2 linked regions of the Homo sapiens genome follow. The protein of the gene in region 2 purifies or fractionates together with the protein of the main gene of each other region. This does not show direct contact. Each region holds a gene or a part of one and is shown on either strand. Other genes may lie near its edges.

Region 1 (3,350 bases), on a different chromosome or scaffold from region 2:
AATGACAGGACCTTCAGTCTGTATTAAGAAGATATGGCTGCAGAAAGACAAGATGAATTGTGGCAAGAGTGCAGAGGGGGAAAGAAGGAGGTTTCCCAGTTCCGATGGCTGACTAATGGGAGGAGGAGATGGAGAAAGCACAGTAAACAGACTGGACTAAAAGTTGCTTGTGTGCACGGGGGGAGCTGTGGGGTCAGGATGGGAGTGATTCCAGTGTCCAGATTGTTGTGAGAGCTGCTGTGTGGGAGATTCCTGAATAAGCCAGACCTTGGAGTGAGAGGTCTGTGAGGGGCCAAGGCACTGGAAAGAACCGCCGGCTTCATGCATGGCAGGGGTCACACACAAATCTGGGAAGGCACACACTGGAGCTCATGATGCTGAAAGGCCTTGAGTAGTCACACTCTGAAGATACTGCAGCTTCTCCTTAGCAGGGAGAAAGCCACAGGAAGTCCTCTGACCACAGACAAGAGGCCCACGGAGCCCTGGGGCAGGAGGTCGCCTCCTACACCAGGCTCTGTCACTTCTGACCCACCCAGGGCCCAGAACAGCTACAGAGAACAGAGAATTTTACAAAGAGTTTGATTTTATTGATATTTAAATATATTAAATATTTCACTGAAATACATGGTTCACCATCCTCCCCCACCCCCACAGTGGTTACATTATAAAACCAAAGCCCACGGCCTCCCACCTCCTGACTCCTCTACCAACTGGGTGAGGAAAGGGACAATGGTAGCCCAGGGGAAGGGCATGGCTGGCACTGTGGTACGGGGATCCAGGGTGTGGACAGGCCCTCCCACCTGGCAAGAAGCAGAGACAAGCCACCCAAGGCTGAGGTCTTCCCACTCTGATCTACTTATACCCTCACCCCTACCCCATGGCACCAAGTAGTCTCTTCCTATCCCTTCCTATCCAGGGATATGGCTGGGGACAGGGGAGTAGATTTTCTGTCTGGAAAACAAGTCTTTTCCCCTCCTTCTGCCATGACTAATGAAGTACCTGATGGCCCATTTGGTTGATGCATGAAGATGCCCAAGGGAGGCATTACCCAGAAACCAGGCCTCCACAGGGAGCTGGTGTCAGAAGGGGCATGAGGAGGGGCAAGTGCACTGCCTGCCCCTTCCACTCCCAAACCTAGCAACTCTGGAAACCCTTCTCCTCTGCCTCTCTAGTCATTTCCAAGACAAAGTGATCTTCAAGCAAAATTCAGGCTAGTGCCTTTGGCTTAAATAGGTACAGACAGAGAAACTGAGGCACCAACAAATTCAGGCCAGAGTCAAGGAGGTTGCAGGGAAAGGGGTAAAAGGAAGGCAAAGACAGGAAGGGAATCTAGAGTTCAACCTCCTAACCCTTCTGCCAGCCCTCAAGGCTTCACAAGGGACTGGGGAGCTAGAAACATGCTAGACTCAGGCTGAAGGCTGGGGAAAGCCAAGTTTAAGGTTCCTCTTCCCCACCCCGTAGTACCAGTATCCAGGTCCTCAGAGGGATTCCATGCTACCCCAGCCCCAAAGCATACCATGTCCCAGGACACTATCTGGGGAAGCCAGGAAATTCCTCAGCCTCTGTCCATCAAACCCCAGACAGTTCAAGTGCTGGCATGGAGCACTGGGGCTTAAGCAAGCGCTTGGGTCCCTGCCACAGACAGGGAGAGTCATGCTGCACACATGGCCCCCGAACGGCACTTAGGGATTTGGCACAAAAAGGACTCCTCTCCCTCCTTTTGCTACCACACCCCATCCCACTCCTGTGCAACCTGGGCATCTCTCTACATCCCCTGAAGTAGGAAACCCTGCTTTATTCCCAGAAGACAGAGGCCCACAGGAGAGAGGCAACCTGGGGTGGAGAGCTGAGGAGCAGGAGCACAAGGACTCACATAGACCTGGAAAACAGATATGCACACAAAGACCAACATGCACACACAGTTACACAAACACACGGGCCCTCCCCAACACCAGAGACTTGGGAGGGCAGGTTTGGGATCAGGGTCACCTTTCTCCATGCCCTGACCCTTTTCTATTTGGCAACAGAAGAGGAAGAGATGCTCCATGCCCCCTTGTCAGCAGACAGCAAGAGAGCACTGGGGCAGAGTGACCTGATCTGGACCCCGACGGGGTCCTCAGATCAGAGTCTGGCACTGCCCCAGCCCTGGCCGGCCTGCTCTTTGGCACCTGCAGGTGAACTTCCAGCTCCTGACCTGACATCCCCACACACAGGCTTGCTCTCTGAGCATTTTTCACAGTACCAGTGAGGCCAGACACCCCGTTCCCTGGAGCGTGCAGGAACTGGGGCTAAATCTAAGCTGTCAGAGGTCCCTTTGTTCCCCTTTGGGGACAGATCATGGGACTAAGATTTGGCACATGGAAACATTCTCCTGAAATATGGCCAAAGCTGGCTCCCCAGAGCTTCTCCCTCCTCTGCTCTGTGCATAGGAGGGACACCTGGCTGGGGTGGGGAAGTGCCCAGGACCAGTGCTGGGGATGCAGGTATTGCAAAGGCAAGCATGGAATAGGCACTCCTCATGCCTGTCTTTGTACAAAATATTGTACAAAATATTCCCAGGAAAAAAGAGGGAAAAGAAGGGCTCAGCCCTGAACCTGCTGCCCAGACAGACAGGGAAGGGTAGGCATGGCAAGCTGCCATTTTAATCCCTCAGGCAAGAGGCCTCCCTCTGCTTCTGCTACTGACCCCTCCCCTGCTCCCAAAGGCTGGAAGATTGGAGAGGGAACAGCCCTACCCCAAGTAAGAAAGAAAGTCACTTGCATAATCCTCTCGGTAGGTAGCCCCTTGTTTTCCAGCTTGAGGGCAGACGAGCATGATCCAAGCACAGCCTGCTGGGATGTTCCCTTTTGTGGTTAGCAGGGTCTGGAGGCTCAGTGCCCCCTGCCACAGCTCCACCCAGTGAGCACAGAGTCCACTCAATGCCCACCTTGGTCCCTTCAGCTGAATTTGTGGCTGGGCCCTGTTAACTGCTGGGGCCCCCATTGAGGAAGTAGGTGGTCATCTCCCCCTTGCCCTTCACCTTGACCACCCCTCGACACTCCAGCTGGTAGCCCTTGGCAGCTAGAACCTGGTACAGGTCCGTGGTCACCTGGGGGAGTGGGAGGGGAGCCCGCTTAGCCTGGAATCCTTCCTGCTGCATTTGCAGGGGCCCAGGGGTTCTCTAGTCAGGCTAGCTCCCTTCCCCCAGTCCCTGCCCCACCATACACAGAACACTAGCCACCCTACCCCTGTCCTAGCAGACTGCAGAGACACCTGTGGAAGCCCTCCGGGCCCATGTTCCTCCCAGCCCCTGCTCATATCCCCCTCACCTGGATTCGGTCGGGGACCCCCGTGCTGTCCATACGACTAGA
Region 2 (3,652 bases):
ATTCTCAAGTGTTAGTTATCCCCTCAGTTTATTTTTTTACCTATTAATCTTCTTTTGTCTGATATGAGTATTACTATGTCTATTGTATTTATTATTTAGGCACTTGAGATGTCTGCTATGATACGAGAAATAGGACAAAGAAGATTGATTGGGGTCAGTCAAGGTAAACCACAATCATGTCAAGAATAATTGACCCCCAAACAAAATTTGGATATGTCATCATTGCAGAAGATAGAGTGCCTGACAGTGTCAGCTACCATTGTAGTCAGGAATACATCCAGCTAACAGTTAGAGAAAATATTCAACTAGAAGCAACTGAAATTAAAAATAAAGGAAATGTTAAAAGCAAAGGAAAGAAAAAAATAAGAAAAAGTATATGTGTCTTGTGTGAAGAGCATAGGAGGACAGTAAATGTTAGTATATACTGTGTCCACCCTAGGCCTCTCCCAAGAAAGCAGAATCAACCAGAGCCCAGAGCTGGACTCTGAAGACTATAACTGTATTCATTAAAAAATCAACTACAGATTAGAGTATCATATTTAAATCAAACTTATTTTAGGTTTGATTTTAAATTATAGATGAAGTATACCATGAGATAGGAAATATATTATCTTCATTAATTAACTATCTTTTCTTACCAAATCACATAAGCCAAAGCAAAAGTCAAATATTACAAATTTAAATTCCAGGAAACATAAATTCCAACAACTTTTAATCTATCAACACTATCTGTAGGTACATATATATTTTTTCATATTCATTTGCTATTTAGTGTTGGTTTGCATACAAGGATTATAAAATGTTTGTGGTCTGAGATATAAACTCTTTCAGAATGTGTTTCACCACAAATAAACCAAAATAGAGCTTTTTTTGTTGTTGTTTCTAATGATCATTTTTTCTTTTTTATTAATTCTACAAAAAGAACATTTGCTATTCAATATCTCTCATTTAAAAACACTTATGGTTATATTTATTTTCTCCCCTTATATTTGTCTCATGCACTGAAAAAAAGCAAACAGTATAGCAGTATTTTACTACAATTCTGCCGTAAGAAAGTGCTAAATGTAAATTCATATTATGAGTGAATAATGATGTATCTCACCTCATATTAATTTCAGTAATTGAATGGGAAAACAGGAAGATCTATTAAAAGGACCATTGCTGGTCAAACACTAATGAGAAAATCTCTGAGTCACTGGCTGTCATGGTAACAGGGCATTATCAAAATCTGATTAGTATGCCCAGTAGCTACATAAGCGATTGGCTATTCTTCTAATTGTATTGTCTCTGCTTGCAACATGGGTTTTATGTTCCTAAGAGGTGAGAGGGTGGCAAGGCTCTGTTTAATTTATATACTGGATACGGAATACACTGCATGTTCATAAAGTAGGGTCAAACATCTAGTACTAAAGATAAATTATATTTTGGAAAGATTTTCAAAAGTTAAAAACAAACTTAGTTTACCCTTGTCATTAACTTACAAATTTCTAAATTTAAATAAAATTTTTTTATCTAATTTCATAGACATTCATAGCAAAGATAAAATAAAAACTGATTTAAAAAAGGAGTTTAGTGAAAACATGAAAATAAATCATAAGAAATCTTCCCAAGAACAAAATTTCCAAAAGAATGGTTTAGAAAAGCACCAAGAACTATGGGTTAAAAAAGTAATCAGGCCAGAGAGTTTTAGAACGAAGCAGATCCAAGAAGTATGATGAGCAGAAAACAGGATTGGCAGTAGCAATGGGCCACAAGGAACTATGGGCAGTTTTCCATCTGTGTCTTTAAGAATGATCTCCCTTCTGTGCCCTTGGTCTTTTAGGTACAAATGAATTTAGGTTCAGTGAATTTCAGAAATTACAGGGCCCAGTGTTCTCAGTATTGCTTTGTTCTTTTTAATATCTTGTGTGTCACTGAATTTTTAGAGAAATTGATCGCAGCTATCTGATCCTTTTTGGTACATAAATTAATTCTAAAAGGAAAACTCCAAAGATTAACAAAGGTAAATTCTGGCATGCATTATTGACTAGAAATCTCTGTGCCTTGTCAGGGCTCGTGAGCACAAGGAATTTTAATAATGCTTGTCCTGAGAAGCTTATTACTTTGGTTAAATGCATAAGCATGTGGACTAAGTTTTACATGTACCAAATATCAAAAACAATCAGAAGTCAATATACTGAAAACCAAAGGGGAATTTGTCTATACACTTTGAAATTCAGTGCAGGGTGTGTTGTTGCAGAAAGAAAAACATCATCAAAGACAGCAGAGTGAGCAGACAGAGTAAAGGAGCACATTCCTAGAGAGATTAGGCTATTTCTAGGGGTCCTGTGCACTGACCTGGGATGGAAGCAGCAGTCTGAAAGCCAGTCAGTGTGGCCAAATCCCGTGAGAAGCACATTGCATTTTGGAAGGCCCAACACCTTCCAGAGTCGGTCCTCGCCACAGGAGACTAGGATGTCTTTGTGGGGTTGCATGGAGACACTGCGCGAGGAGAAAGAAAAAAGAGTTATGGGGAGATAATAGCAAATGTTTTCAGAATATGAATAAATGAAATGGCAGTGATTATCCGATTTTAGCAAGGCAGGATAGTTTTGAGAGTACTGGCCCCAAAATAAGAGGAAGCAGGTTCTGCATCCCTGCTATAGCTCTAACACTAGTAGCTTTCTGATCTCCATCAATCTAGTCAGCTTCACTGGATCTCGGATTCCTCATTTGCAAGACAAAGTAGTTGGTTTAGGTGATTGTGCATATCTAATTCTGGTTTGAAAAGAGTAATTATGGTTTTTCTTTAAGGGAAGAAAAATTATGCCAATGGTATTTTTATGTTGGGATATTTGGACCAGTGGTCATGGTTACTATAGAACATCAACATTGTTTTCAAACTATAATATGTCTTAAATCAGCCATTATCCAGGAAAAGATCATGAATCATAACCACATTATCATAGTTCTGTAATAAATACTATAAATGAAACATTAACTCCATGGCCCACTATCTACACAAAGTGAAGGAACTAAAATTCTATCCTACATTACCACTTAAATTGGCTTCAGTCAATGCACAGTACACAAATTACAGTAATGAATTCAAGATATAAGGCAATTCCCACTCTATAAAGGCATAGAGGGAAATGAGAAAGAAGTATGTAAGATTAATGATTAACACATTAAGCACTATTATTTGAACTGGACTCTGATCACTGTGGCTATTTTAATACTGGAGCTCAACTATTTTAAAATCAAAAGTCTACAAGGTTAATGCCTGATATTTTAGCTATGGCAATGCTTTAATCTTATTTGTATAAAGTTTCATCTATGCCTTACAATGTAATGGGAACAGATGTGTCCAATGTTAAGCACCTATTAAAATTCCAACCTAAATATTAGTAACAAATTGTTCAATTTCAATTTGGCCATCTAAATTCAAAGACAATAATACATTTACTTGCCAATGTGGTGCGGTAAGACATATGATGATTTAAAAAACAGCGATCACATGTTCATTTTTCCCTTAGTCTATTCTATAAATGGCCTTGTTCTTTTCTTCTGCAATATGGATTTTAAGAAACACATTTCCCAAAGAAACCATGGCTCTAGTCCACACCAACATGGCTAGCTAACTCCAGGCTTATATGAGAGCAAAACATTTCTC

The links.
Region 1: the proteins of SPAG16 (region 2) and ADCY6 purify together in Homo sapiens (affinity purification with mass spectrometry; one large-scale study listed by BioGRID and IntAct). This does not show direct contact.

The regions. Positions count from the first base shown.
Region 1 is NC_000012.12:48,765,629-48,768,978, forward strand, and holds the end of ADCY6 (adenylate cyclase type 6), read right to left. Parts: coding exon 3,309-3,350; intron 3,089-3,308; coding exon 2,963-3,088; 3' UTR 566-2,962; downstream 1-565. Other genes in the region: SPMIP11 (sperm microtubule inner protein 11), read left to right, coding at 1-27. UniProt on the Homo sapiens protein: Catalyzes the formation of the signaling molecule cAMP downstream of G protein-coupled receptors. Functions in signaling cascades downstream of beta-adrenergic receptors in the heart and in vascular smooth muscle cells.
Region 2 is NC_000002.12:213,861,314-213,864,965, reverse strand, and holds part of SPAG16 (sperm-associated antigen 16 protein), read right to left. Parts: intron 2,482-3,652; coding exon 2,338-2,481; intron 1-2,337. UniProt on the Homo sapiens protein: Necessary for sperm flagellar function. Plays a role in motile ciliogenesis. May help to recruit STK36 to the cilium or apical surface of the cell to initiate subsequent steps of construction of the central pair apparatus of motile cilia.